Homo sapiens: one gene and its partners. The protein of the gene in region 1 purifies or fractionates together with the protein of each later gene. This does not show direct contact. Each region holds a gene or a part of one and is shown in the gene's direction. Other genes may lie near its edges.

What was found. The genes of interacting proteins can lie anywhere in the genome.
Region 2: the proteins of CMKLR1 (region 1) and TMEM87A purify together in Homo sapiens (co-immunoprecipitation; 2 studies listed by BioGRID and IntAct, with this or other methods). This does not show direct contact.
Region 3: the proteins of CMKLR1 (region 1) and SC5D purify together in Homo sapiens (co-immunoprecipitation; 2 studies listed by BioGRID and IntAct, with this or other methods). This does not show direct contact.

The regions. Positions count from the first base shown.
Region 1 is NC_000012.12:108,329,301-108,336,322, reverse strand, and holds part of CMKLR1 (chemerin-like receptor 1), read left to right. Parts: intron 1-6,115; 5' UTR 6,116-6,328; intron 6,329-7,022. UniProt on the Homo sapiens protein: Receptor for the chemoattractant adipokine chemerin/RARRES2 and for the omega-3 fatty acid derived molecule resolvin E1.
Region 2 is NC_000015.10:42,270,412-42,278,121, reverse strand, and holds the start of TMEM87A (transmembrane protein 87A isoform 1 precursor), read left to right. Parts: upstream 1-4,688; 5' UTR 4,689-4,723; coding exon 4,724-4,867; exon of another isoform or gene 4,868-4,921; intron 4,922-5,056; exon of another isoform or gene 5,057-5,233; intron 5,234-5,998; coding exon 5,999-6,059; intron 6,060-7,710. Other genes in the region: GANC (neutral alpha-glucosidase C), read right to left, coding at 1,712-1,774, 3,612-3,640. UniProt on the Homo sapiens protein: Potential monoatomic ion channel gated by mechanical force, implicated in normal touch sensitivity through the generation of mechanically activated currents.
Region 3 is NC_000011.10:121,288,394-121,295,792, forward strand, and holds the start of SC5D (lathosterol oxidase), read left to right. Parts: upstream 1-4,377; 5' UTR 4,378-4,423; intron 4,424-4,458; exon of another isoform or gene 4,459-4,685; intron 4,686-7,399. UniProt on the Homo sapiens protein: Catalyzes the penultimate step of the biosynthesis of cholesterol, the dehydrogenation of lathosterol into 7-dehydrocholesterol (7-DHC).

The DNA.
Region 1 (7,022 bases):
CACCCACCTCGGCCTCCAAAAGTGCTGGGATTACAGGCGTGAGCCACTGCGCCCGGCCAATTGTGAGTGTTTCTTAAAGCTTCAGTTTGGAAATCAGAATCTCTGTGGATGAGGCTTCAGTGTCTGCATGTTGAACCAGCACCCCAGGTCATTCAGATGCACCCCAAAACTTGAGAACTACCAACCTAGAGTGCTTAAAAGTCTTTCCTTTTTGCCCTTTGTTCACACTGGGGTCTTGGGTTCTTTGCTGCACAATAAGGTTTCTTTTTTCCCTTCTAAGCAAATATTCATGTACTTCTGTGAATCCACATGTTCCGTGTCAGCAGTTGAGGCCAGAAGGTTTGGCAGAGAAGAAGCGAAACTTTGTCTTATAGTACCACAGAAAGTCAGATCGTGTTAGCAATCCCCCAGCATGGAGGCTTTGAAATTATTTTCAGTTGCAGAATCCTTTCCACAAATGAAAGTCTTATGGGGAAGTGTAATTTGAAAACAGATAAAGGTGGTGTTATTCTTGTTGAAACAGAGGTGGAAGACTCCAGGCTGCCACTAAATCTCACTCTTGTTGCTGAAGGGCCTCTAAGAATCTTTGTAGCTCCATGGGGCAGGCAGGAAACTGCAACTCCTCTACTCCAAGGAGTTAAGAGACCAAAGTTCTAGACATTTGTTGAGCTTACTGTGTGACCTTGGCAAGGCACTCTTACTCTTTGGCCACAATAATTTCATCTGTAAATAAGGAGGTCGAATGGTATATCAGCTAGGGTAGTAGCTGCAGTAACAAATAGGTCCCCAAAGGCATAAGGGCTGAAGCAAAGCAGAGCTTTATTATAAGGCAAGTATTTCTGAATGGAGGGTGGTCCTCTTCCTCATGGTACTTCAGTGACTCATCTGGTGGTCCCACTCTCTCCTCAGATATCCTCATTGTCTGCAGCCAGGTGCACAAGACAAAAGAAAGTATGGAGGTGGCATATTTGCTTATCTGCTTTGGCCTGGAAGCAGCAGACATGACTTCCACTCACATGAGAACTATCATGTGGCCAATCTAGTTGCAAAGGAGGCCAGGACATGGAGTTACAAGGATATGAGGTTCTTGGCAAAGAGCAGCTCTTTCCCAGCCACAGTCGTGTATTGTGGACAGGGAGAATGAATTTTTGTGGACAGCTACCTGTCTCTGTCACAAATGTGGTGACCTCTTGGGTTGCTTCCATTCTTTGATTCTAAGTCTACATTTCCATTAGTCAATCTTAGTTAACATGGTGATGTTGGACTCACAACATCACCTATCCTCAAGGTAATTCCCATCAAATATACTAAGTAAATTTCCAGACTCCAGGCCCCTAAACATGGATTTTTCTGAAACATAGGCAACTGCCATTCTCTTTTCCCCCTGGAAAAAGGAAATAAGAATAATGGTTTGATAGAACATGCTGCGGGTTATTAAGCCAAAGGTATTTATATCCATTATCTACTTGAATCTCCCTACAAGCCTACATGGAAAGGCCTCAGGACTATCATCCCCATTTTATAGGTGAATAAAATGAGGCTCAGAGAGCTAAAGGGACTTGCCTAAGGTCACACAGCTCATAGCAAAAGAATGGGATTTGAACGAAAAACATCTTATTCCTGTCCTAGGGCCCCACTGCACATTTGAATGTTGGTGTTCATGTACGTGTACATGGTGTGGTTAGAGTCGGGATTTTCCTTGGGCTGGGCTCCCCCAGGGCTGGGCATGAGGGAAGTGAAAGCTCAGGAATCATGCTCAAACTCCCCAGAATGGGCCAAGGCTGCTGACTGTAAGGCAGCTGGGTGGTTGTCCTAGGTCCTGGGGTGAAGAAGTACAGTGTGACCAAGTATTACAGCCACTGGCTGTGTAAAAGAGAAGGGACAGTGCATGAGGGTGTTGTGTGGTCCTGGAAGACACTGAGGCTTCAACTGGGCTGGCCACATAGTGGGTGCCTGGGAGCACTTTCCTGTGTGAATAAATGCATGTGGGAGTAACAGCTGCAGCACTGTGAGAAAATGAGATGAATCAGACCTGCTTCCTGTCTTTGAGGCCCTCAGGGGAGGAGAGACAAACTTGTAACATATACTTTTATTAATTCACTCAACAAACATTTATTAGCATCTACTACACGTCTGGCTCTCCACAGGGCAAGAACGATGGAAAGACAGGATTCCTATCCTTGTGGAACCCATTTGAGAGATGAGGAAAGTGAGGCCCTGATTGGTTACGTGACATTCCCAAGATCATTTGGCCAGATTAGGACTTGAAACACCTGGCTTCCAGCCCAGCACTTTTTCCATAGCCCCTGCTGAGGAGGTGGCCGTAGGCCAGGACTGAGATGCAGTGAGGAGCCCCTGTTATTGGCAGCCACTTTGAGCTGCCGCCGGACTCAGGACATGCTGGTTTCAGGCGATAGCACGAAACCAGTTATTTCTTTTTAGAACCTCTAGATTTTTGCAGCAATGGACACAGGTATGAATGAGAAAAAGTAGAAATCCTTGCACTGTCAGATGGAATCAAGAGGCAGTAATTCTACGTGGTGCTATCAGAGAAAGAAATGTTGACGTCTGGGTGACGTTGGCTGGTAGCACACTGTGGTGATGATAGATCCCAGATCCAAGTGCTCCAGAGTTGAGATCCCAGCTCTGAACTTTAACCTCCTGAGCCCCTCAGCTTCCTCATTCATAAGGTGGGCATGCTATGAGTACCTGCCTGTCAGGGTTATGGTGAGATTAAATGAGTCCATATCCATCAAGCACTGAGTACAGCACGTGGTCAGTTCAGTGAAGGCATTTCTATTTTTATTTTTGGGACAGTGAGCTTTGAAATTGGCCTTTGCACATCTGGGTGTCTGGTGCCTTGTGATCTTGGGTTCCCAGACTGGAAAATGTCATTTGGGCTAGTCTCTTGCCTCCATGTCTGGCCCCAAGGAGAGGTCTTGGGCTCTGCTGGTGGAGAGTGCCCTGGGCCTCACTGTCTTCACCATAGACAGTCTCTGGCAATGTTGGAAGTACCAGCGGCTGACTCAGCAGGGAGGTCAGCTGCTATCCAGGCAGAATGTCAGAATCGGTTCTGCTTTCTTGGGGTATAGGACATGGGTCCTCAGATTCCAGCCCTGGGTTCCTGCTGAGGGCAGCTCTTGTGCAAGGAGGTGGGTGGGTGGGGAGATGGGTACAAAAAACAACAGTGAGCACACTTGGTTTTTCCTCCTGGAAATCAGGGGTCAGAGAAACAGGAAGTCAATGGAGAGAGGGTGTGGTGTAGTGAGAAGAGGGCAGGCCCTGTGGTCTGGCAGATGTGAGTTCTAATCCTGGGTTTGACACCTATTGATTTATTTTTTATTTTTTGAGACAAAATCTCATTCTGTCACCCAGGCTGGAGTGTAGTGACATGATCACAGCTCATTTGCAGCCTCGACCTCTGGGGCTTAAGTAATCCTCCCACCTCCTGAGTAGGTGGGACTATAGGCATGCATTACCATGTCTGGCTAGTTTTTGTATTTTTTGTAGAGACAGGATGTATTAGTCAGGGTTCTCTTAGAGGGTTCTCTTACGGTTCACTCTCTACATATAAAAAGGGGGAGCTTATTAAGTATTAATTTACATGATCACAAGGTCACACAATAGGCCATCTGCAAGGAGAATCAGTCTGAGTCCCAAAACTGGAGAACTTGGAATCCGATGTTCGAGGGCAAGAAGCATCCAGCATGGTAGAAAGATGTAGGCTGGGAGGCTAGGCCGGTCTCTCCTTTTCAGGTTTTTCTGCCTGCTTTATAGTCTCTGGAAGCTAATTAGATTGTGCCCACCGGAGTAAGGGTGGATCTGCCTTCCCCAGCCCACTGACTCAAATGTTAATCTCTTTTGGCAACACCCACACAGACACATGCAGGATTAATACTTATTATATTTTAATCCAATCAAGTTGACACTCAGTATTAACCATCACACAGGGTCTCACCACATTGCCCAAGCTGGTCTTGAACTCCTGGACTCAAGTGATTCACCTGCCTTGGCCTCCCAAAGTGCTAGGATTGCAGGCATGAGCCACCGCATGTTTTTGCGGTGAGCCCGGCCACCTATTGTTTTTGTGAGCATGTGCAAGTCACATACATATAACCTCTTTAGGCCTCAGTTTCCTCCTGCCCAGGGTTGTTGAGAGAGTGTCTGCCATGTTCTTTGGCCTGGAGTAGGTGCTCAGTAAATGACTTGGGGTGGGGAATAAGGGCAGGGGACACTCAAATGCCCATCCTTTGTTACCTGAATTGGTTTGAACAGTTATCAGAATCTATGAATTCCTGAGTGTTATATGAAGTAAGAATTCAGGTAGCAAGTGTATATGTTTCCTGTTACTGCTATAACAATAACCATAAACCGAATGGCTTAAAACAACACAAACTTATTATCTTATTAGTTCTGGAGGTCAGAAGTCCCAAATGGGTTTCACTGGGCTAAAATCAAAGATTGCATCTCTTCCGGAGGCCCTAGGGGAGAATCTGTTTGCCCTCCTTTTCCAGCTTCTAGAGGCTGCCACATTCCTTGACTCATGGTCCCCTTCCCCAGCCTTCAAAGCCAGCAACCGCAGGTTGAGTCCTCGTCACATCAAATCACTTTGACTCTCCTGCCTCTCTGTCTCATTTTTAAAGACGCTGAGCTCACCTGGGTAATCCAGCATAATCCCACCATCTCAAGATTCCTAATGACGTCTGCAAAGTGTCTTTTGCCATGTAGGATGACATATTTACAGGTTCTGGGGATTAGGATGTGGACATCTTTGGGGATCTGTTATTCTGTCTAACAGTGACATTGGTCTGCATCTGATTGTTTCTTGAATTTCGAATTTAGATATTGGGAGTTCAGGTGGCCATCTATTGACAGTTGGTTCAGCAGAGTATTGACCAATTAGAATGGATGCAAGTGTAGCAACCAGTGAGGCTTTACCAGGGAGTATTCAGTGATTATCAGGACCGAACCAGGAACCAGACTTTGGCATCATTTAGACTGCGTTCACGTCCCTGCACTTATGAACCTGCTGACTCTGAACGAGGGGGTTCTCCCATCTGTGAAATGGGGATGGCGGCATGTTGTACATAGGGTAGTAGTTAGGATGGAAGGAGATAGTAAGAGTTAAGTGTCTGGCACCTGGTAGGAGGCTCAACAGGAATGAATGATCCCCCAGGAGTTTAACTTCCCAGCTTGAGTCTCTCCATCCCAGGTACTGGTGATTTCTAGTTATGAGAACCTTTCTGTCTCTGCCCCATGCTAGGGAGACATGCTTGTCTGGCTCATGGGCTGCAAGGAGCACAAGGGCTCCTTCTCTTCCCCCCTGTAAGAGAGGAGGTTCATTTTTGAGGATGTGGATGCTAACTAGGAGGGGAGAAGGTGCCAGCTGCCCAGCCAGCCTTGTGTTTGACCTGGAAGGCTCTTGGGATATGTGTTGGCTTGAGGGCTGGATTATCTTTGTCCCCTAGGCTGCAGGAGCCTGCAGCCCCCATTCAGCTGTTCTACTATCAATGGGGCTCAGTGTCTCCTATGTCTACCTCCTTCTGCTCCCAGTCCTGCTACCAACTGCTCTACTTTATTTCCAAGTCACTGTTTATATGCCCCAAGAGGGGCTACCTCATTGGTTCATGTAATCCTTCCAGGGTCCCCACTGGATCCCTGCTGGGGTTCTCTCTGATGGTGGATGGATTCCCTCTGAATCTGGAACTTGCATTTCTAGAAGGTCCCAGAAGAATCACGAATTGGCATTGAATTGAATTGGCACTGACCTTGACATGATCTAGTCCAGGGATGGAAGTCCACACCCCTCACCATGTGCTGTGGCAGACATCACACATCAGTCATGACTTTTCCTCTAGTTGAACCCAGATGTCTTTGTCATTTATCTTTGTGGATCAAACACCCCCAAATTTAGTGGCTTGAACTGACTTATTCATTTATAATTATGCAACTTAGCAGAGTTCTGCAGGGACAGTGCATCTCTGCTCCACATAGTGTTGGCTGCGTTACTCATGGGCTGCATTCAGCTGGGAGCTTGACTGGGGCTGGGATATATAAGATGATCTCACATCCTGGAACTTGTGTGCTCTGTTTCTCTCTTTCTCTCTCTCTGTAGCCCATCTCTCCAGCAGAACTGCTTGGATTTTTCTACCAGGAGGCTCAGGGCTCTGCAACAATGATAGCAGAAGCTGATGGCATCTAGAGATCTAGGCTGGGACTAGCACAGCATCACTTCTACCACTTTCTGTTGGTCACAGCAACTCACCATGCCAGTGCAGATTCAAGGGGAGGAGAAATAGAGTCCACTTCTTGATGGGAGGCGTGACATGTGAGTATTGGGGCAGGGTGGGATGTTAGAGTCTATCTTTAAAGACAATCTACCATCTTCATCTTAAAACAACGAATGACAGTGGCCATCTGAGATAATCATTTGTCACCCTAAGTTAGACTACACTCCCATTTTTCAGATGGGAAAACTGAAACTCAAAAAGGATTTGTTTAAAGGAGCCTCTGTTCACTTCACAAGCATTTACTGAGCACTAACTGTGTGCTAGGAGCATGGGATACAGGGAGCTCCTGTTGAGTGGGAGACAGGTGAGTAAACAGACAGAGTGGAGGCCCATCTAGCCAGAAGGTTGGCTTTAATGTTGGTTGCTTGGGGCAAATTTTGCTCACAGGTCACAGTCACCCATGATGATTCCATTCATCATCCATTCAGAACAGTAAGTGACTACTGGGCCATTTTTACCAAGTGCTTATTGTTAAATACCCTCCCACTTATGCCTGCTTGATACATTTAGTGTGCAAAGTACTGCAGGAGTGAAGTGGAGGTAGCTTTCACTGGGGAAGCCAGGAAATAGTGCTTCGAGAAGGAAGCATATATTCGAGCTGGGTTCAAAGGGTGAATTGGCCTTCAGTTGCTTATAGGAGCAGTTGGCTAGACATGAGAGAGATTTTAGGCAGGGAGAGCTGCATGAACACAGATCCAGAGACTTGATGAGTGCAGGGAGTCTGGCGTGGTG
Region 2 (7,710 bases), on another chromosome or scaffold:
ATTAAATATAATCTAGTGGTTTAACAAGGTTACCAGGCATTCACTGTAGACTTCCCTCTAGATACCTGTTCAGAATTAACATAATACGCTTTTCTTCCTATTAAACAGAGAGGGAATATGTTAGAAAGCTATACTGTATAATACAATTTTTGATTATTTCAGTTTCAAGATCACGTAAAGACTGTTTTTTTTTTTTTTTTTTTTTTCAAATGAACATTATGGCCAGGCGTGGTGGCTCACGCCTGTAATCCCAGTACTTTGGGAGGCCGAGGTGGATGGATCATCTGAGGTCAGGAATTCAAGACTAGCCTGACCAACATGGTGAAACCCCCTCTCTACTAAAAATACAAAAAATTAGCCGGGCGTGGTGGTGCATGCCTGTAATCCCAGCTAGTCGGGAGGCTGAGGCAGAAGAATCGCTTGAACCCAGGAGGTGGAGGTTGTGGTGGGCAGTGATTGCGCCACTGCACTCCAGCCTGGGTGACAGAGGGAGACTCCGTCTCAAAAAAATGCATAAAAATAAAATAAAATGAAGATTTTAAAGGCATATTTTTTGTAGCTCTGGAGAAACAGGCAATCTTTTTTTTTTTTTAGACGGAGTTTCACTCTTGTTGCCCAGGCTGGAGTGCAATGGCACAATCTCGGCTCACCACAATCTCTGCCTCCCAGGTTCAAGCAATTCTCCTGCCTCAGCCTCCCAAGTAGCTGGGATTACAGGCATGCGCCACCATGCCTGGCTAATTTTGTATTTTTAGTAGAGACGGGGTTTCTGCATGTTGGTCAGGCTGGTCTCAAACTCCCAACCTCAGGTGATCCGCCTGCCTTGGCCTCCCGAAGTGCTGGGATTACAGGTGTGAGCCACCTCGCCCAGCCAGGCAATCTTATATAATGTTGATAGGAGTACAAATGGTATAATTCCTATGGAGGGAAATCTGGTAATAGTTAACACATTTCAAATGCATTTACTCTTTGACCCAGTAATCTCACTCCTAGAAAGGTATCCTATAAATACACCTGCATGTGTAGAAAATGACCTATGTATAGCTCTTCATTGTGGTAGTGCTATTTTAGCAAAAGATTAAAAACAACCCAAGGGTCTAGCAATAAGAGACAGACTGAATAAATTATATTAATAGTATATCTACCCCATGGAATATTATGCAGCTGTAAAAAGGAGAAACAATCTCCATGCACTCATATGAATTTCTCCTCAGAACAAACTATAAAGCAGGAAAAAAAACCTATTTGGTATAAAAAGGGGTGATTAAAAAAAGAGAAAAGCAATAATATAAAAATACATGTATTTACAAAAAAATACTGGAAGGATAAATAAGAAATGAAGAAATTCGGTTATTCGGGACAAGATGAGGAATGGGTAGAAGGGGACAGGAGTGGAAGCAACATTTTTCAATGTATAGCTCTTTATATTATTTTTGAACCATGTAAAAGTGTTATCTATTCAAAGCGTCAAAATTTAAAACTAGTTTAAAAATATTTTGGCTTTTAAAATAAAATAGCTGTTTATTGAAAAATTTAAATACTTCAGGAGTAAATGTATAAAGTTAAAAGTGAGTCTCCTGTCTGATGATTTCCTTAATTATTAAATTATCCTTTCCTTGGAAAGTCTATCAGTTCCAAAAATTTAATAAGCATCAATTTTGAAATACTGTCAGAGATGTTTTGATCTAGCTACTATATTTATTTTCCTTACCTGTAAAATGCGATCTTGTTACAGTCTCTGAAAATGTTTTTATCTACAGCTTCATCTTCAAGACTAAATAAAAAGACATTTTGAGAAATTTATTTCACACAGGGCTTGTGAATCCAACTTTTGTACCTTCTCTAACGACAGTATGAACATGCAAAATAAACCTTTGGAGTCTATTCTGCAATGCAAAATTGTGTCACGGCCACAGTATAACATAATAGCACATTATGTTGCAGAACAATAGCCTTTTGTAAACCCTCTGAGGTAAACAACAAAACATCAGGTTCTGGGATTACTCCAAAAGTAATGGGAAAAGATCACTGTCACTTATGAGGACATATTCTTTTGAAATAATGACTGAAGGCTATGACCACAAAAGTAAAATCTGAAGGAGGAAAACCAAAACAGCATCCCAAAACGAACAAACCAAAACCAACCAACCAGACAAACTAAGAACCATAACCCACCCACCGATTTATTCAAGAAAATATTTTCAGAATATTCTTCCTGAGAGCTGGGCTCTGAGGAAGATATGAACTGTGTTCAAGCTATCAGTTAGGGTTTTACCAGCAATCACAATACAAGCTGACAAATGCTTTAATAGAGGTGCAAGGTGCTAGAATAAGAACAGAACAGACGTAGAAGGGGAATTTCTTGCTTTTTAAGATGAGGTGACAAACTAGGGGCCATGTTTTTTAAAACCAAGTTTCCAGAAGAGCTGTTTCTGGGATAAAACATGAATGAGATATATGTATATTGAAGTTTGAGTATATGTATTTAAACTAGCCTCCATCTGATTAAAACAACTACAGATTATAAGGAGAAAAAAAAATTACACCGGCTTTCATGCACTAGTGTGGCCGAATGCATCTGTAGTCAGCATGTCCATGATTATGTAGAAAGCTATGACTGAACACAAACGTCGAAATATTATGAAAACAAGCCCAGGCAGATATACTTGGCCATACTAAAAAACTGTTTGTCCTTCACTGAACTCAGTCTTTGTCCGTTTATTTTAATTTATTAAAAAAATTTTTTTTGAGACAGGATCTCGCTCTGCCTCCTACGTTGGAGTGAAGTGGCACGATCTTGGCTTGCTGCAACTGCCGCCTCCTGGGCTCAGGCTATCTTCCTGCCTCAGCCTCCTGAGTAGCTGGGACTACAGGCCCACATCACCACGTCTGGCTAACTTTAAAATTTTTGTAGAGACAGGGATTCAGCATGTTGCCCAGGCTGGTCTGAACTCCTGGGTTCAAGCAATCTGCCCACCTATAGGCCTCCCAAAGTGCTGGGATTACAGGCATGAGCGAACCGGCCCAGTTTATTTTAATCAAGTGTACAAAGATTGGAGAATCTTTTGTTTCCTCTTTACAGCTTCGAAGAATTAACTCTGGGATGATATAGGAAGGGGTGATTATAGATGAATTTGGAAAGCAACATGCCTGAAATTCACGTGTTAAGAGTTCTGATTGCAACTTTTCCACTGTTAATGTTATTTAACCATCCTTTTTTTTTGGAGACAGGGTCTCACTTTGTTGCCCAAGCAGTGGCAAGATCACAGCTCCACTGCAGCCTCCAAATCCATCCTCCCAGTGGTCTCCCAAGTAGCTGGGACTCCGAGGGGGCGGGGAGGGGGTCTCGAACTCCTGAACTCAAGCGATCCTCCCACCTTAGCCTCCCAAAGTGCTGTGGGATTACCTGCGTGAGCCACTGCACCCGGCCTATTTAACCATCCTGAAAGTATTTTATGAGAGGCTATTAATATCAACTAACTTCCCGCGAATTGAGAGAAAAGATAAAGGTCAGCAAATACCAAATACGCAAATAAGAAATGCAATTAAAACACTATTCCCTGTTTCTAGGGACCCTGGGGTCACTCGCTACAGAAGCACTTGGCCTTTACCTTATTTCCTCTTTCACTGCTGCTTCCATGGCTTCTCTGTCACTCCGACCAGCTCCCAGCTCTCAGGACAAGGGCCCTGGGCGATCTTTTAAAAAAGCCGATTGGGTGTCTTTCTAAAATTACAACCAGTACTTCATCGTCAAGTTTCTGGGAAGGGAGTCCCCTCCAGATTCTCATGGAGTGACAAATCTTGACTCTTGCTCCTGGAATTTTTCAGGCCCAAACTAGCGTTTCTACAATGATTTATTTGGCAAATTTGTCTTGATTATGGGTGGCTGATGAGGAACGTGCTTTTGTTAGGAACCGAAACTGGGCGGCGGTGAGGGCGTGTACGCAATGAGTCCTAGAGGGTAAAAATCAAGAGCGTTAAGAACCTGGAAATGCCGAGACGGCCTCCCTGACTGGGACGAAGCATCTGCAGATCTATCTCAGTGGCGGGGTCACGCCACAGATTTTGAAAACTGACCCTCTCTGTCTCCGTTTTCGGTTAAGGGTGGGAAGTGCCGGCCGGGTCTTTGCTGGAGGCTAGGTCTCCAGCCAGATTGTACTGCAGCATCGTACTCTTCAGGGCTAGAAGGGGCCTTTGAAGGTTGTTACACTACCCAGTCTAGGAATCGCGTGTACTCCACCACCGCCGAATTCCAGCCTTTGCTTAAATACCACCCAAACCGGAGAACTCACTACTAGACGCCACTTGGGCAGCCAGGCTTAGGGCTTTTCCAGACTTTCTGGCCCCAAAGTCTGACATTGACTTAGAAGGGATGAAGGGCTGGGGCGAGCGGAAGTAGAGAGCCAAATCCTGCACGGGGTGCCTGCCTGGTCCTAAAACCTTTAACGGCTGGGAGACAGAAAAGACTCAGGCCAGGCTGGCATGTAGCGATCTCTCTAACCCAGCTGACCAGGTTCCAACAGGATGACGCCTGCGCAGTAGGTCCAAAGTCTCACGGCGCACAGACGACTGTCTGAGAGAGGGGCCGCTACGCCGCACAGCAAACAAGCTCCGCGACGTTTCCAGGACCCGGATAATCCCGCCCTTAGAGCAGAGCCGGAAGAAGGCGGGACGAACCGGAAGAGGGTGAAATGCTTTCGGTAGGCACTCCACGGCTGTGAAGATGGCGGCGGCTGCGTGGCTTCAGGTGTTGCCTGTCATTCTTCTGCTTCTGGGAGCTCACCCGTCACCACTGTCGTTTTTCAGTGCGGGACCGGCAACCGTAGCTGCTGCCGACCGGTCCAAATGGCACATTCCGATACCGTCGGTGAGTATTCACTTCACTAACGTCTGAACCTAGAGGAGCAAGGGGTGGGGCTACGGCGGCCCAAGGGGTCCATGAAGGTTCCGCAAAAGTCTCTTCAAAAGGGGTGGGGTTGCTGGGATGGTCTGTGTGGCTAGCCAACTGGGACCCACCTCCCTGGAGTGGAAAGCCGCGCACTTCTGTGATTAGGCTAGCGGGAATGTAAGGGCCACTTCAGCAACAGAAAGGAGTGGTGGAGCGGCTTCTCATCAGAAAAACAGAACTTTCAGTGCCTGACTTGAGATGTAAACTTGATGTACAAACGGAGAGTTGTTTATCTTTCAGATGTTTCACAGAATCCAGTGTCCCCGGGTTGGATAAGAAAGATATGTAAATAGGAGTCTTCATTTCTTTCTTTCTTTTTCTTCCTCTGCACTTCTTGGTCCCTGGGTAATTCTGCTTACGAGATGGTTCGACTTCGCTTCAACTTTGGAATGGCTATTCTAAGCTTTACTGTGTGACTAGAAAGCATAGAGATTTAAGAAATGTGTTTTAACATGGGAATGGTTAAAATTGAAGAAATAGTACTTAAAATTTAATGTGGTAAGGCTAGTCTTTCATTTGGATAATTAACTACATGGGTTGACCCTTTCTGCCCCTTACCCATTTTAAACCTTATTTCAGTAACAGGTATAGTCCTGTGAGCAGACAAAAACCAGATGCAGGGAGGAAATGCTGAAAAGCATTAGCCCCATTAAACCTACGTTGGCCTTTTTGTTTCATTCTGCTCTGCTCACTGACTGTAATGTCCAAATCTTATTTGGGCTTTTATTATGGTAAACGTTATACCTTTTGTTCAGTGGTGAAGATTTTCAGGTGTTCAGTTAGGTTTTTACTTGTTACTAAAATGGTTAATAGTTAAGTCTTTTTAGATTTGAAAATAAAACTCTGGTTATTTGCACACAGAATAGTTCATTAGAAAAAATGATTGGTTATTCTGAGCAGTGATTGGTGAGTAAAGGGAATGAACTGATTAAGGGGTACGTCCCATAAAGATTTAAGTTAAGTTGGAATTTCTAGCAGTCTTAGATAGTTATATGATGCTTTGGTAATTGAAGCCATCTGAGGCTAATTATCTTTCCTTTATGTTTGCAGGGGAAAAATTATTTTAGTTTTGGAAAGATCCTCTTCAGAAATACCACTATCTTCCTGAAGTGTGAGTTTTTGAATTTCATGAAGTTTTAATTTGAATTTTAAAAATTTATAGGTAATGTTTTAAATTACCTATTTTATAAGTTCTGAAATCTAATAGTCTGGCATTATCTAGGTATAAATATTTTTAGTATTACTAAGGTCCTTTTACTGAATCATCTTCAAAGTACTCGTGTGAACTTTATTTTCTTCTCTTGTTTTTCTGGTGTTTACATTGCATATATACACTATGTAGACATTATATATTAGTATATATAATGTATATATTAATATATATGCTGTATATACTACATTGAATATTCAGTCACATCTCAGTCGAATTACATTTACAGTTGATACTTTCTGAGAAAAGCATCCTTAGGTGATTTTGTCATTATGCAAACATCATAGAGTATACTTAAAACTGGATGGCACTACACGCCTAGTTTGTATGGTACAGCCTATTGCTCCTAGGCTATAAACCTGTATAACATGTTACTGTACTGAATGCTATAGGTGGTTGTAACACAATGGTAAGTTTTTGTATATCTAAACATAGGAAAGTAGAGTACAAATACGATATTACAATTTTATGGGACCCCCGTTGTATATGTAGTCTTTCATTTACTGAAATGTTATGTAGTGAATGACTGTGATTATGTTGGGGTTGATTCCCTGCATGGTGGTTTTAATCTGTTCTGTGTAGATTAAAGAGGTTTTACTCTTGTGTGCTTGTTAAATGTTTACTGCAAACATGACCTAGGTTTGTCAGGCCGTTGGCTGTGAAGGAATATATTTAGTAGATCCTTTATTTACAAAAGGAGTATTTTACTGCTTTGGAAGAGGAAGCTCAGATATTATCAAGAAATAGGGATTATGTAGAACAAAACTAGTTTGTCTAGTGGAAAAATGACTGTATCTGAATCTAAAGTATCCCATTGTGTGTTCAGTAAAAGCTTCCTTTTAGTTCTGAAACCGGCTTTAATTTAGAGAACGATTGATCGTGGGCAGCTTTATTTCTAGATGAGGGATAAAAATCCTGATGATAGATGTGTGATTCTATGCATACTGTCTTCACGGAAGTGCAAAATTTTAAGTCATAGTTGGATAATTTTATTCTTTTCAATTGTTTAGTGAGTAATTATTACTTATTGCATAGACTGTGGGGAAGTAATAGAAAAATGTTCTTCCCTCATCGAGCTTACATTCTAGTGGGAGTGAAAACAGCAGGTAGAATTTCTCTGAAGAATATATACTGTATCCATGAATATGTAATCAGTCTCCTGACCAGTGACTTATATTTGATTTAGATCAAATCTACTCTGACACTGGCCTTGTGAGATTGGTTTACTGGGTAACCTAGTAACCCTTGTCTTTTGGAATAGCTTGACAGCCTGTTTGCTGTTTTATTCTTTTATTAGGTCCAGTCTTTTTTTCTCGTGTAGTTTGATCTAGTGGTGTTTTGCCAAGTTAAACCAACTGCATTTTTTTTAAGATGGTGTCTCACTCTGTCACCCAGACTGGAGTGCAGTGGTACGATCTTGGCTTACTGCAACCTCCACCTCCCAGGTTCAAGCGATTCTCCTGCCTCAGCCTCCCGAGTAGCTGGGATTACAGGCATGAGTCTCTATGCCCAGCCCTAACTGCGTATTTTGAAGTGTTTATATTTCATTGTT
Region 3 (7,399 bases), on another chromosome or scaffold:
AAGTACTGTTAACTTAAAAATTATACAATTTATAAATTTAAGAAAGGAGAGAAGAATTTATTTCTTATAAAGTGTTGCAGCCTGCAAGGTGACCAACCCACAGGCTGGGAAGTGTGCCTCCAGCCGAGACCAGAGATAGGCACTTTGAAGAAGGAGGGGCTGGAGTAGGAGCTTTATGCTGAACAGGTTGGCTAAACATGCATGTTTTACAGGAGGAGCTATGAATATTCATGAAGCTGATCCTGACATGCATATTGAACAAACATGCATGTAACATATGACCATGTTCACTTTAGGATGGAGAGTTAACATTTAAATATATTACAATTAGGCCCTATATGTCAAAATGTTTTTTCAGGACATGAAGGCATATAGATGTGCAACTTCTGTAAACTGATCAGAACCAGCCCATGGGTCAGTGGTATTCTTATCAGGAGAAAGTTATTAAAACCAGTCTTTATCCAATGAAAGCCGTAGTTGTGGCTTGTGGAATAGGGGGTCAGTTAGCGTCTGGTGGAGCTGCAAATTGTTTTAATATTGCTTATCTGAAGGCCAGTGTTTGTTTAGCTGCTAGAGAAAAAGAAAAATCTTGTGACAGTTAGAACATAGTTTATTCTTTACGTGTAGGGTACATGACTTAACCCTCGCCTGGCACGACCTTAGGTCCTATTTATAATTTGGTATTGTATCGCCACAAAGAATCTGTTCTGCCAGTTTTATGATTTCTGTTTTAACATCAATGCCGGTCAGTCGTGTCTAAAAAGGGAGGGGGTATAATGAGGCCTGTCTGACCTCATCTCATCATGGCTGGGAACTAAGTTTTTAAGGCTTTTCTGGAATCCCTTTGGCCAAGAGGTGGTCTGTTCAGTCTGCTGGGGGGTTTAAGATTTTATTTGTAGTTTAAAGTATCATACTATAAATTAAAATAGAATCCATGGGGCCAGGTTAAGGAATAAACACTTTCTCTTCCTGTAATCTACTTTTGGACACTTGTGCATCCACCTTTTTCATGAAGATTCTCTTCTCCCTAAAAAATAAATTCATGCAAACAGATGCTTGTGAGCCAGTGGCCCAACGAGTTCATCAGAAACATTCACTCTAAATAGCTTGGTGCCTAGTGTTCTTAGTACAGTCCAGTGTGATGTAATGAAGAGAGGTTGATACATTACTGATGCATTCAGTGACAACATTTCATTAAGAAGGCTGTTCTGTTTTACACATCTGAAAACCAGTTAGAAAGTGACATGATTTGGATGTTTCCTCCCCTCCAAATCACGTGGTGAAATGCGACCTCCAATGTTGGAGGTGGACTGAGTGGGAGGTGTTTGGGTGTTGGGGGCAGATCCCTCATGAATGTCCTGGTGCTGTCCTCACAGTAAAGTGAGTTCTCACTCTATGAGTTCACATGAGATCTGGCTGTTTAAAAGAGCCTGAGTTTAAAAGAGAGAGCCTCCTCCCTCTCTCTTGCTCCCTCTCTTCATGCGATAGGCCTGCTCCCCCTTTGCCTTCCACCAGGATTGTAAGCTTCCTGAGGTCCTCTCACCAGAACCAGATACCAGCACCACACTTCCTGTACAGCCTGCAAAACTGTGAGCCAAAATAAACCTCTTTTCTTTGTAAATTACCCAGTATCAGGTATTCCTTTATAGCAATGCAAACGGACGAATGCAGAAAGAAAGGGTCTTCATTTCCTAACTTCAGAAACTACAGTCTTTGTAGTTTCCTTTGTAGTACCTTTGTAAAGACAAAGGTCTTTAAACAGTTTAGTGCTTAGTGTTCTCATTAAAGTATAATGTTATATAATGAACGTGGGCTGATAAATTATTGATGCATTGAAAGGCAACATTTCATTGAAAAAAATTCAAACTCAATCTCAGTTTAGAATCTTCCAAGTGAATGAGGACTTCTAACTCTGTTCAGGTCAAATGTAGCCCTCTCAGAGAAACTGACTGACCATGCTGTCTGAAGTTAACAGCTTCCGTTAATTTTGATTCTCTTACCCCATTTTCTTTTTCTTCATAGCACTGTCCGACATTGTATTATATATCTATTTATTTATTATCAGTTTTCTGTCTCCTTACTAGTGTGTAAGCTTCATTAGAGCAGACTTTGTTTTGATTATCAGTATATCTCCTGTGCATATGACAGTGCCTGACACTTATCACCATTACATAATGATTTATTGAGTAAATAAATTGAGTAATTTAATGATTAAATGGTTTGTTTCCATGTTCATGTTCCATCCAGACACATAGGCAGGTATTGTGGCTTATCTCTGAATTCCTTGGTACTGGCTGGTTGGTACCATAGACCCTTGCAAACAATGAATAAATAAATTACCCTGATCCATCAGTGTGCCTGGATAGAAAAGACATGTAGGAATGCTGCACCCCAGGATGTGCTATTAATACACTTATACACCACGGAATACTATGCAGCCATAAAAAAAAGAATGAGTTCATGTCTTTTGCAGGGACATGGATGAAGCCGGAAGCCATCATTCTCAGCAAAATAACACAGAACAAAAAACCAAACACCACATATTCTCATTGAGTATGTGGGAGTTGTTCAACTGTGGGAGTTGAACAATGAGAACACATGGACACAGGGAGGGAAACATCACACACCGGGGCCTGTCAGGGGGTGGAGGGCAAGGGGAGGGAGAACATTAGGACAAATAACTAATGCATGCAGGGCTTAAAACCTAGATGACGGGTTGGAAGGTGCAGCAAGCCACCATGGCACATGTATACCTATGTAACAAACCTGCACGTTCTGCACATGTATCCCAGAACTTAAATAATAATTAAAAAATACACTTAAATTTATTTTTAAACAAGATTGTTCTCTTGAGGTTAACTTATTACTACTTTGAGTTGTCAGGAGTGATTGCAAATTTCTTGGGAATCCCTAAGTCACCAAGAATAAAGACCACTTGTAATAGCTAAGGCATATTCAACAATAAAATTCTAGAGATTCAGGATATTTGATGTTTGCTTATAACATTTCACTTTTGAGCTTTTATTCGTTTAATAAATGTTTTATCATCTATGCTCAATAACATTTTAAAGTGTCCATTCAAATCATTTCATTGGGCAAAACAATGTTCCTTCCCTAATTTCCCTCATCAGAATAGCCATTTTGTCTCTGTGCTCAGCCTATACCACCAATTACTGTTTATTTCCTGTCCTTGTAATAAGCAACATAGTTATTTATACATGCCCATTTCTCCCACAGCACATAAGCTTTTTAAGGTTGGGAACCATGTCTTTGTCATTATTGTAACATCTCTTTCCATTCCCGGTGTTCAGTACGATGTGTTAAACGAAGTAGACACTCAAAACTTTTTAAAATTTATTTTTATTTATATAATGAGTCTTTTTTAAAAAAACCACCTACACTATTTTAAATTCATTTGAACTTTGTCCAGTATCCTATGTACATTTGAAGTTTAACTACCGGAAAAGTCTTTTGAAGGCAGATCGAATCATGTTATTTTTTTCCCTTAAAAATCCCTCATTTCTGTCATGTATTCCCCATATTATTTATGTAATAGGTAAAGTGGCCCAGTTTGCCACTTTGAAGTTGCTGAGCTGGTATCACAAGTCAGTCCCCTCTGTTTTAATCTCTGTTTAAGGAAAGTCACTCTGAAACGACAGATCTTTTGGTTCCTTATTTCTGCTTTCCTCCGTCCTCTTCTGCCTGTGAAGCCACCCTCCTCTGCTCAGCTCTGTTTCAGGAAATCGGAGCTGCTCGATTCATGTGTAGCAAATCAAAGCCAATTAGATCTGCGTTAACCTTGGTTTTCAACAACTTGTATCGTGAAAAGGTTTCTGTCCATGTTTACCCTCATCTTGTCACCATTTAGACCCCTACATACACCGGCTCGCGGAGCCTCCAGCCATTCAGCGCTAGAAAATCGGGGGGACTACGTCTTAAAACCTTGAGCACCTGTTTGGGAACATCTGCACCTCCTCCCTTGAGGGAGAAAACGACCCAGACATTCGCGTCAAAGGAAGTGTCGTCTATTTCCCTCAACGCAGGGCACCCGTTCTAGGAATGTTTGTATAAACACCGTAAACCTGCCTGGTACCACCATGAATGACACAAGAGCTAGTTTAAAAAGAAAGCAAAGAAACAAACGCAAAACCCGAAACCGCATCCTCCACCGCAAAGGTACTCGGATGGGGCGCCCGCCCTCCCCTTAGTCAGAGGACAAAGGGGGCGTGGCCGAGCGCGCGGCGCCCACGTGACCGCGGAGAGCTGCGCGCAGGCCCTTCGCGCGATCTGCCGTCATATCAGCTTATGGCGCCGGTCGCTGATTGGCTGGCCGCTCCAGCCTCCCGGCCCGCTTGCTGGCTGCCCAGCTGCTAGGACAGTTTGCAGAGCAGTGGCGTGCGGAGCGGCGGCGGACCACCTCCAGGTGGGGACGGTGGGTGGGCGGGGAAGGAAGCGGAATACACCTGAGCGGGCTGGGCCGGGGGGCGATGGAATAAAAGAAGATGGAGAGACTTCAGCGCCTGGGACTCGGGTGGGCGAGGCGGAAGGTGTCCTCGCAGCACGGCTTTTCTCCGCGCCGCGGTTGGTTAGCGAGTGCCCTCTGGGTGCTAGGCGTTGGGCGGATGGTAGGATCGCGGTAGCATACGGATCCGAGTCCTGCGCCGAGTGAGAGGAGAGGCTGGCAGGTAGCCTGGCATCCCGAAGACTGGCGGCGAGGGCTGGGCCGGGGGACCTCGGGGCCTGGAGGGCTGCGCCACCTGGGAGTCCGGGCGGAGGGGCCTTCCGCTCGCGCTGGGAGGGATCGCGGGGCCGATAGGGAGGCCTGGACTTGAAGGAGCCGACCGTGGACGGGCTTAAAGAAAATGCAGTGTTTGATGTTGGGTGTTGCAGATCTCTTACTCAAGGGAATTCTGGTCTGGCTGCTGAACACGAATGCTTTACTTTTCCCTTCGTTCTGGGAGGGTTTTTTTCTTTTAAAGGCCAGAAGAATCAGGCTGAAGAACTGGTCGGTATCAGAACTCCTGACCATTGCAAGCCTCTGTTGCTGCGGCGTAATTAGAATGAAGGGACAGCAATCTGGGGCTGAGGAGACTGAAAGGAAAAGGGAAATAATCTGTTCCTTTTGCATCATAAAAGGAAAAATAATGTATACTGACATCCCTGTGTTACAGCAGAGTAGATTTGGAGGTGGTGTAAGTGAAGAAAACAAGACCTCAGTACATAGAGTTTCCAAACTGGAAAGTTTGTGGCAGCTCGGTACTTTTAGAGGAAACCCTCTGGAAGTTATTTGTCTTTATATCACTATCATTTTTTAAAGTTTCTAATGATTGATACCTAGTAAATAATAACTGATCCTTGATCATTTACAGAGTGCTTTTCCATTCGTTATGTAATGTAATTAATTAGCATGGGGTGGTACTCAGAATCCCTCATCTGCATATAAAACATCTTGAGAGATAACATAACGTGGTAGCAAAGAGAAAGGTTGTGGAATGTACATCCCAGCTGGTTTTTTCTGTTATTGTTGCTTGCTACTGAACAAGTTATTTAAATACTCTGACCTCAGTTTCCCTATCTATAAAGTGGGGAGCATAGAAGTACCTATCTCATAGAGGTATAGGGATTAGATGAGGTTATACAAAAATAATACCTGGTTCTCAATAAATATTAGCTATCATTTTCTATACTTTTAAAGTAGGGCAAAAAGATAATGGTAGACTGAGTTGTTCTAAGCCTAATATTGTTATTATAACTGAGTTTTAAGAAGAAGTTTCTTTAATTCTGCAAGGACAAAGTATTTAAGTTTCTGTTTGAAGCAGTGGTACTTAATTTAGGGTCCTTGGGACCCCTAACTTCAGGGCTTATAACCCCTTAAAATTATATGAGCTTGTAGAGGCACTGAACATTTTTAAAAATTCAGGAGTTGACGACTTGAAGTAGTGGTGAAGAGGCTATAGAACTTGGCAGAAGTTCACGTACTTTGCAACTAGATTGTGTGTATTTGAATCCTAGCTCCAGCATTTATTTACTCTTATGACCCTATGCAAGTTACTTAAAATTTCTGTGCCCAGCTTCTTCATCTATAAAATAATACTAGTACCTACCTTTGAGGCTTCTTGAAAGGGAAAATTAGTTAATATATTTAAAATATTTATATTACCTAGTATATATTAAATATTACTATCAACTACTGTCAGTTATTTTTCAAACAAAAATCAAGTGGCACCTATTTTATCTTCTATTGAAGTAATTTTGACGCATTTTTGACGGCCTTAACAGTGATAATCATATAGATGCTATTTTATTGAGTACCTTTCTTGGGTCAAATGTCAAAAGTCTACTTAGTCTCTAAACCTCACAGCAATCAAACATGTTTGTGTTCTTTTTGGTTGCACGATACTATTCTAGGTATTGTATTGAAGTAGGGCCACATGGCACTGTGGGGAACATGTAGATTGGCTCATCAGCTGTTACCAACCTTTAGTGATATAGCAATATCCTTTTCAATTATTAAATGTTTATGTTATCTGATATTACGTAGTACCCTGTCCCTGCTACACCACCTCCCTTGGCAGTCTTCACCCCTATAACTTCAACTACTACCTGTATACTAACCAGGCTCGCTTTTGAACTTCACATTTATATTTACATGTGGCCTATTGCTTATATCTAAGATAGAAGATGAGCCACAGATAATTAGGTTTTAAGATCTACATTGAACCCGTTTTGAACCCCAGATATCTGAGACAGGTCTCAGTCAATTTAGGAAGTTTATTTTGCCAAGGTTAAGGATTCACCCGTGACACAGCCTCAGGAAGCCCTGACAATATGTGCCCAAGGTGGTCGGGGACACAGTTTGCTTTTATACATTTTAGGGAGACATGAGACATCAATCAATATGTGTAAGAAGTACATTGGTTGGGTCTGGTAAGGCGGGACAACTCACAGTGGGGGCTTCCAGGTTAGAAGCAGATAAGAGACAAAGGTTGCATTATTTTGAGTCCTTGATTAGCCTTCCACTGAATGCACACATTTCGTCTGGCTCAGTGAATCTGCATGTTTACATAAACAATAGGGCAGAGGAAGCAATCAGAAATCCATTTGTGTCAGGTGAGCCTCAGAGGGATGACTTTGAGTCCTGTCTGTCCTTTATCCACAAAGGAATTTTCTGAGGGCAAATTGTGAGGGAGGGATGTAGCTTCTCATCCTTGTAGCTGTCTTATTTAGGAATAAAGCGGGAGGCAGGTTTGCCTAACATAGTTCCCAGCCTGACTTTTCTCTTAGCTTAGTGATTTTGGAGTCCCAAGATTTATTTTCTGTTCACACCATCATTCCTTACCCACCCCCTATTCCTACCCTACCCAAATCTGCTAGCTCTGCCAGTATTCCCTATTTCAAT